2 linked regions of the Homo sapiens genome follow. The protein of the gene in region 1 purifies or fractionates together with the protein of each later gene. This does not show direct contact. Each region holds a gene or a part of one and is shown on either strand. Other genes may lie near its edges.

Region 1 (3,500 bases):
TTCATTGAATCATGTCAATTATAAGCATTTCAGAAAGTTGAAACATAATATATTTTTGCTTGTAAAACACAATACAAACTCGCAACTACATGCACACCTACACAGACAGCTACCAAAATAACACGATTAACTCTTGGAGTCATAAGCCACTGTTCATTTATAACTTATTCCTCCACTTCATTCTCTACTAGCATTTGCAAAAGGGTATAAATAATAAAAAATGACCAGAGAAAATGTTCATCCCTTCATTCATTTTGAATGTGAATGACGTGAAACAGGTCATGGTTAGATCTGAGAAGCAGAGCACTCAGGCTCCCTGATTTCTGGATGTGTCTTCACTGCCTGCCAAGCACCATGCTGATGGCTTTGGTGGTTGGACTTGTGATTCAGATGAGTCTGGGTCTAATCCCAGCTCTGCCACACACATTGTGACAAGACCTGGGCAAGTCATCAAACAATCTAGGTTTCAAATGTCATTATTTATAAATGGGGATGTTAACCCTGTCTCCTAGGGTTAAATGGGCTTTATGACTAATGTTCCTGGCATGTAAACCATCTTAATCTTTATCACACACTGGAAGATATATATTGGTAGTATGTATTATACAACTTCTTTTTAAGAAGAGAAAACTGAGCCCTACATGAGTTACAAAACTGACCCTAGGTTACTCAGCTGCTATGAGCACACCCAGGCCCAAACCTCCTGTTCCAAATGCCTCGCCCTGGTTTGAGAACAGCATGTGTATTCCCCAAAGTGGGGTACATTGTATTTCCAGTCTTATTTGAAGACTATTAGCCTTGAAATATAAATAGTATCAGATGTACCCAAAAGCCAAAGGTGATGAGGAAGATATTAGAAGAGCTAGAAAATCACAATGATGAAATTAGAAAGCATCAGGCACATGGCCTCATTCATATCCATGCGAATCTCATGGATAACTGAAGATTTCTCTCCCAGCACACTTAGAGGAAGCTGGGAACCTACCTCCCAGGCATCCAAGAACGTTGCTTTTCCACCGATGGCATTACCTTTATCATCTTTGGGGAAAAGGTCATCCCCAGACTGTGAACACAGAATGAAAAGTTTACTGGAATCTGCATCAGGACACTTGGTTCTGTTCAACAAGGTTTCAGGATCCTGACTCTTGCTAAATACCACATCTGCATACCACTTTTTCAAGTTCTGGAGTACATACTTTAGGAATGTGAGTTTAATTAAAATCTCTGTATCTACTGTAGCATACTAATATTTTAGAAACGACTGGCTTGACTTTAAGATTTGCTGCTAGTACATTCCAGAAGTTCATTATCACCATGGACATTAACCTCATACACCTAGATCCCATATACAACCAAGGGCAAACTTTCATTTCAATATTACTGGATAAGGATTAGATATCCAAGCTGTGGTTTTCTGGAGAAGATATTGGCCAACTTCTATCCTTGCAGCCTCTAGAAGAGGCGTGGAATTAGGGGTGGCAGGCCATCATCACTCCAGTTGGTCAGGAGGGGAGAGAGCTGGAAATTTGTCTCTCCCACCCCTCAGGAGCAGGTAAGAGCAGAGCCCCAGGCAATGGGTGCCTGGATCACTACTGGCTTCCTTCCAGCATCACCATACTTGGGCTTTTCTCCAAGATGCCACTCCCAGGTGTACTTTGCTTAATAAGATAATTATGCCCTGGAATATAGTTATGCAAGAGTAACCCAAGAGATTTCCTGGGAGGGCAACCCTGGGGCGTGGAATCAAGACAAAGGTGATATGGCAGTTGCAACTTGTCTGGGCTGCCAGAAATCATGTCTTCTCTCAGACATAACTGCAAGAAAACCCAGGCATGTGGCCACCTCAGCAGCACACATGGCCTCAACCTCCCTTCCAGGCCAGTGTGTTTCTTCTCCAAGGTCTCTTCCTGACCACCTGCCATTCCCAATTATGAAATGCAAGGCCTCCTGCCCCAGTCCACACCACCCCACAGCCCTGGTGCAGCTACTATTTTCTGGCACCTGCTCAGAAACTAGAGGCTGAGAAAGAGAGTGTCTTAAACCTTGAATCCCTGTGGCCAGTGAATAAGATAGACGTCCAGATAGCTCAGCTTCAGGTCCTTGAGGGTCTTCTCAAAGGCTTTCCTCACAAGGGGTCTCTCAAAGAAAGTGGGCCACAACTGCAAAGAGTGTAGCAATGAGCTATTAATACTGGGAAAAGGAAGGGCCACATTGTACTCATTGTCCCTGCTTTTTGATTTGCATCCTCATCTAACCCACCACAAGCCATTTGTAACAAAGCTGATTAAGATCCACGACACAGTGTGGAACATCACCAGGGCTCAGCACCTCAATGACATGTCTTAAGTGTTAAAAGCAATTGACTTTTTCAACTGTCCTAGTACTCTATACGTGTCTCAGATCATTGAAGTAAATGTGGCCACAGATTTGAAATTTGTTTACCTGTCTCAGTCTCTTCCTCAGCTGTAGGCTCTCTGAGAGCAGGAATTGTGTGTAGCTTTTAAATGTCAAGCATTCTTAGGCCTTTGGGAGCAGATGGTCCTTTATCTGACCTATCTGATAGGTCCCTTATCAAGCCTATAAGGCCCCAAGTGATAATTTTACAAAGGCTTTATCCAGACTTGGCTGCTACACAGTGAGGTCTATTTGTCCTACCAGATGTATGCATTTTCCAAGTACCTAGAACTAGTGTTATTTTTTTTCAGCAAGTTATGTATAATATAGATCCAGTGATTCTCAGCCCTCTCACACCCAACATCTTCTTCTTTTTTATAACATTGTATCCCTCACCTTTTACTAGAATGAATAAAGAAATTCATATGTGACAATAGAAAAATGCCCCTACCATTTTCTAAAATTCCCCCTGGCTGAGAGTCTCAGGGGCACAGTCACTGAGATCACAGTGCTGAAAGGGAGGCTTCAGATCAAGACCCGCCTGCACCCTTGGCCTCTGATTGCCTCTGGGCAGATGGTAGATCCCTCTGATGGGGAACAGGGAGGCCCAGGGCAGTGCAGGGTTCCATGGAACCAAGCCCACTATGGGAAAACCAACCTACAGGCAGGTGGGGCAGCCACGACATGTTCAAATATCAATAATGGCTTGGAGTATGGATAGTGTTGTATTCACGGATGTTATCAAGGCAGAGATGAAAAGGGGTACATGTAGAAAAGGCTGACAGAGTTCTTGCTGCCAACCCGACCCAGATACTTCTGCCTGCCTTGAAGTGAAGGCCTCCCACCAAATGCACCATTGCACCTTGCTGACGATGAACAGGTCCTCCCGCTTCACAGCCTTCTCTTGGATCTTCTCTTGGATGGCTTCCCCCACTTCATGTTCATTCTGATAGACATAGGCACAGTCAATGTGCCGATATCCTGCATCAATGGCCACCTTCACTGCTTCTTTCACTTTGCCAAGAGGAGACTGAAAGGCAAAAGAAAAGCTCATCACATATGTGTTTTTTTTAAGAGATGGGGCCCTGCCGTGTTGCCCAGGCTGG
Region 2 (3,500 bases), on another chromosome or scaffold:
CCCCGCTTGAGGGCCCTGTCCTCTAGCACGCGCAGGGTCCGGGTATACTCGGGGGGAAGCAGGTGGTTGAAGGAGCACAGCCCCTGGCCCAGCTTCACGTAGAGGCCCCCGTTGCTGATGGCCCCTGCCACCAGGGCATCAGCCGCCCGCTGGTGACACGCAGACATCACCTCCAAGTAGCCTGGGCTGTTCTGACCACAGGCATGGGGAGAACACATGGGGACAGGTGGCTGCCTCCTCAGTCCCACCCAGCCCACCACCTCATGCCCACCACTGTGTGCCCAGGGCACCAGGACAAACCTCTTCCACCCCTCGAAGGACAACATTGGTGCACCACCAGTAGTCCAGGGAGATCTGCAGGCCGACCTTCAGAGACCTGCGGGCAGAGGTGGCCTCAGTCTCCAGCGGGGCAGGCTCGGGGCCCCGGTGCTTGGTCCTCTTGTCAGAGCCCTCATGGTCTAGCCTCACCCCGGCCAGCCCTTCATGTCCCAAGGGTGAGGCCAAGCCAGGGTCCAGCCTACAGCCGCGTAGGCCTGTGTGAGCACAAGGGGTGCTGCTGAGCTCGTGGGGTGTCCTGTGGCCCTGCAGGTCAGTCTCAGCTCAAGATCAGTAGAACGGGGCCAGGTGTGGTGGCTCATGTCAATTATCCCATCACATTGGGAGGCTGTGCTGGGAGGATCACTTGAGCTCAGGAGTTCGAGACTGGCCTGGGCAACATGTTGAAACCCTGTCTCTACCAAAAATGCAAAAAAATTAGGCAGGCACGGTGGTGCACACCTGTGGTCCCAGCTCCTCAGGAAGCTGAGGCAGGAGGATCGTTTGAGCCTAGGAGGTGGAGACTGCAGTAAGCTGAGATTGCACCACTGCACCCCAGCCTGGGCAACAGAGCGAGACTCCGTCCAAAAAAGATCTGCAGAGCTGGGCACAGTGGCTCACGCCTGTAATCCCAGCACTTTGGGAGGCCGAGGTGAGTGGATCACCAGAGGTCAGGAGTTCAAGACCAGCCTGGCCAACATGGTGAAACCCCATTTCTACTTAAAATACAAAAAAATTAGCCGGGTGTGGTGGTGCACACCTGTAATCCCAGCTACTCGGGAGACTGAGGCAGGAGAATTGCTTGAACCCGAGAGGCAGAGGTTGCAGTGAGCCAAGATCGCGCCATTGCACTCCAGCCTGGGCAACAAGAGCGAAACTCGGTTTCAAAAAAAAAAAAAAGAGGCTGGGCTTGGTAGCTCACACCTATGATCCCAGCACTTTGGGAGGCCGAGGCGGGCAGATCACAAAGTCAAGAGATTGAGGCCATCCTGACCAACATGGTGAAACCTAGTCTCTACTAAAAATACAAAAATTAGCTGGGCATGGTGGTGCGTGCCTGTAGTGCCAGCTACTCAGGAGGCTGAGGCAGGAGAATCACTTGAAGTCAGGAGGCGGGTTTCGGTGAGCTAAAATTGCGCCACTGCACTCCAGCCTGGCGACAGAGCGAGACTCCGTCTCAAAAAACAAAAAAAGATCTGCAGAATGGGCAGCCTGTGTCCATGCCACCCTCACTCCCTGCCACCCTCAAGGGTGCCCAGGTGAGATGGGGTAGGGGACAGTATGGACGGTGGCATCCTCTGGAGAGATGGGGTTCCAAGGCTGTCTGTGAAGGTAAAGGATGGCAGCAAGGGGGCAGGGCTGAGGCAGCAGAGGTCACAGGAGGGTCAAGGTCACCTGCAGCCTGAGGTCCACTAGGAAGAGAGGAGGACACCAGGAGGGTGGGTCTCCAAGGCCTGGGGAGGCAAGGTCTGCAGGGAAGAGAGCCCAGTTAAGGCAGGAAGTGGGGGACATCCTGGGTATCTGTTGAGCAGGTACTGGGCTCCTGGGGGAGATTTAGGCAAGAGGATGGGGTAGAGGGGTGTCCCCAGGCCTGGCCCCAGTTAGGAGGATATCAGGGTGGGAGCCCTGGGAGAACTCTGGGGACCAGCTGGGCAGCCCTGGAATGAGGCGCCAGGCAGCGGGCAGACCACACACAGGTGCACAGGGAGGGGCTGAGGTCAGAGTGGCTTCTCCAAGGCTGGCCATGGCCAGAGGCCTGTCCCTGCGTTCTGTGAAGCTCACGTACCTGCCTGGGGACAGGGCCCACAGTCATTCCTGAAGCGCAGCTCTGGCGCTCAGGTGGACTCTGTGTCCCCCATCAACCCAGGGCGACCCCCCGGCCATTCAGGCCCCACTCTGGCCCCCGTAGAGCATCTGGAGTGCGTGCTTGGGTTAGGCCAGGGTTTCGGTTTCTTTTTTTTTTTTTTTGGAGACGGAGTCTCGCTCTGTCGCCCAGGCTGGAGTGTGGTGGCGATCTTGGCTCACTGCAGGCTCCGCCTCCCAGGTTCACGCCGTTCTCCTGCCTCAGCCTCCAGAGTAGCTGGGACTACAGGCGCCCAACACCACGCCCGGCTAATTTTTTTGTATTTTTAGTAGAGATGGGGTTTCACCGTGTTGGCCAGGATGGTCTCGATCTCCCGACCTCGTGATCCGCCCACCTTGGCCTCCCAAAGTGCTGGGATTACAGGCGTGAGCCACCGTGCCCGGCTCTAACTTTTCTACTATTAAAATTTGTTATAGTAAACACAACACTTTTGTAACAAAACTTAAAGATGTGAAAAAGTCCCACAGACTTGTGCTTGGGGGAGAAGGAATTTAATTTTTTTTTTTTTTTTGAGATGGAATCTCGCTCTGTCGCCCAGACTGGAGTGCAGTGGCACAGTCTAGGCTCACTGCAACCTCCGCCTCCCAGGTTCAAGCAATTCTCCCGCCTCAGCCTCCCGAGGAGCTGGGACTACAGGTGCCCACCACATGCCCAGCTAATTTTTCTATCTTTAGTAGAGATGGGGTTTCTCCACGTTGGTCAGGCTGGTCTCGAACTCCTGACCTCGTGATCCGCCCTCCTCGGCCTCCCAAAGCATTTTCACATTGCATTTCACATTGCCTCACAGAGCATTTTCAACATTGCTGTATGTTTGAAGTTTTTCACAAAATGTTGGAGGCCGGGTGTGGTGGCTCACACCTATAATCCCAGCACTTTGGGAGGCCAAGGCGGGCGGATCCCCTGAGGTCAGGAGTTCAAGACCAGTCTGACCAACACAGAGAAACCCGCCTCTACTAAAAAATACAAAATTAGCTGGGTGTGGTGGCGTGTGCCTGTAATCCCCAGCTACTAAGGAGGCTGAGGCAGGAGAATCGCTTGAATCCAGGAGGTGGAGGTTGCAGTGAGCGGAGATCCCACCATTGCACTCCAGCCTGGGCAACAAGAGTGAAACTCTGTCTCAAAAAAAAAAAAAAGTATCAATGAGTGCTAAACTGCTGGGTGGAGGCCAGGCGCAGTGGCTCATGCCTATAATCCCAGCACTTTGGGAGGCTGAGACAGATGGATCACTTAAGGTCAGGAATTCAAGACCAGCTTGGCCAACATGGAGAAACCCCATCTCTACTAAAAATTAAAAAAAAATTAGCTGGGTGTGGTGGCAGGT

What was found. Proteins that work in one complex are often made in the same cells at the same time.
Region 2: the proteins of AKR1B10 (region 1) and ADCK5 purify together in Homo sapiens (co-immunoprecipitation; one large-scale study listed by IntAct). This does not show direct contact.

Annotation. Positions count from the first base shown.
Region 1 is NC_000007.14:134,530,567-134,534,066, reverse strand, and holds part of AKR1B10 (aldo-keto reductase family 1 member B10), read right to left. Parts: intron 3,425-3,500; coding exon 3,257-3,424; intron 2,160-3,256; coding exon 2,043-2,159; intron 1,064-2,042; coding exon 986-1,063; intron 1-985. UniProt on the Homo sapiens protein: Catalyzes the NADPH-dependent reduction of a wide variety of carbonyl-containing compounds to their corresponding alcohols. Displays strong enzymatic activity toward all-trans-retinal, 9-cis-retinal, and 13-cis-retinal.
Region 2 is NC_000008.11:144,387,547-144,391,046, reverse strand, and holds part of ADCK5 (uncharacterized aarF domain-containing protein kinase 5), read right to left. Parts: intron 1,785-3,500; exon of another isoform or gene 1,711-1,784; intron 377-1,710; coding exon 301-376; intron 192-300; coding exon 1-191. UniProt on the Homo sapiens protein: The function of this protein is not yet clear. It is not known if it has protein kinase activity and what type of substrate it would phosphorylate (Ser, Thr or Tyr).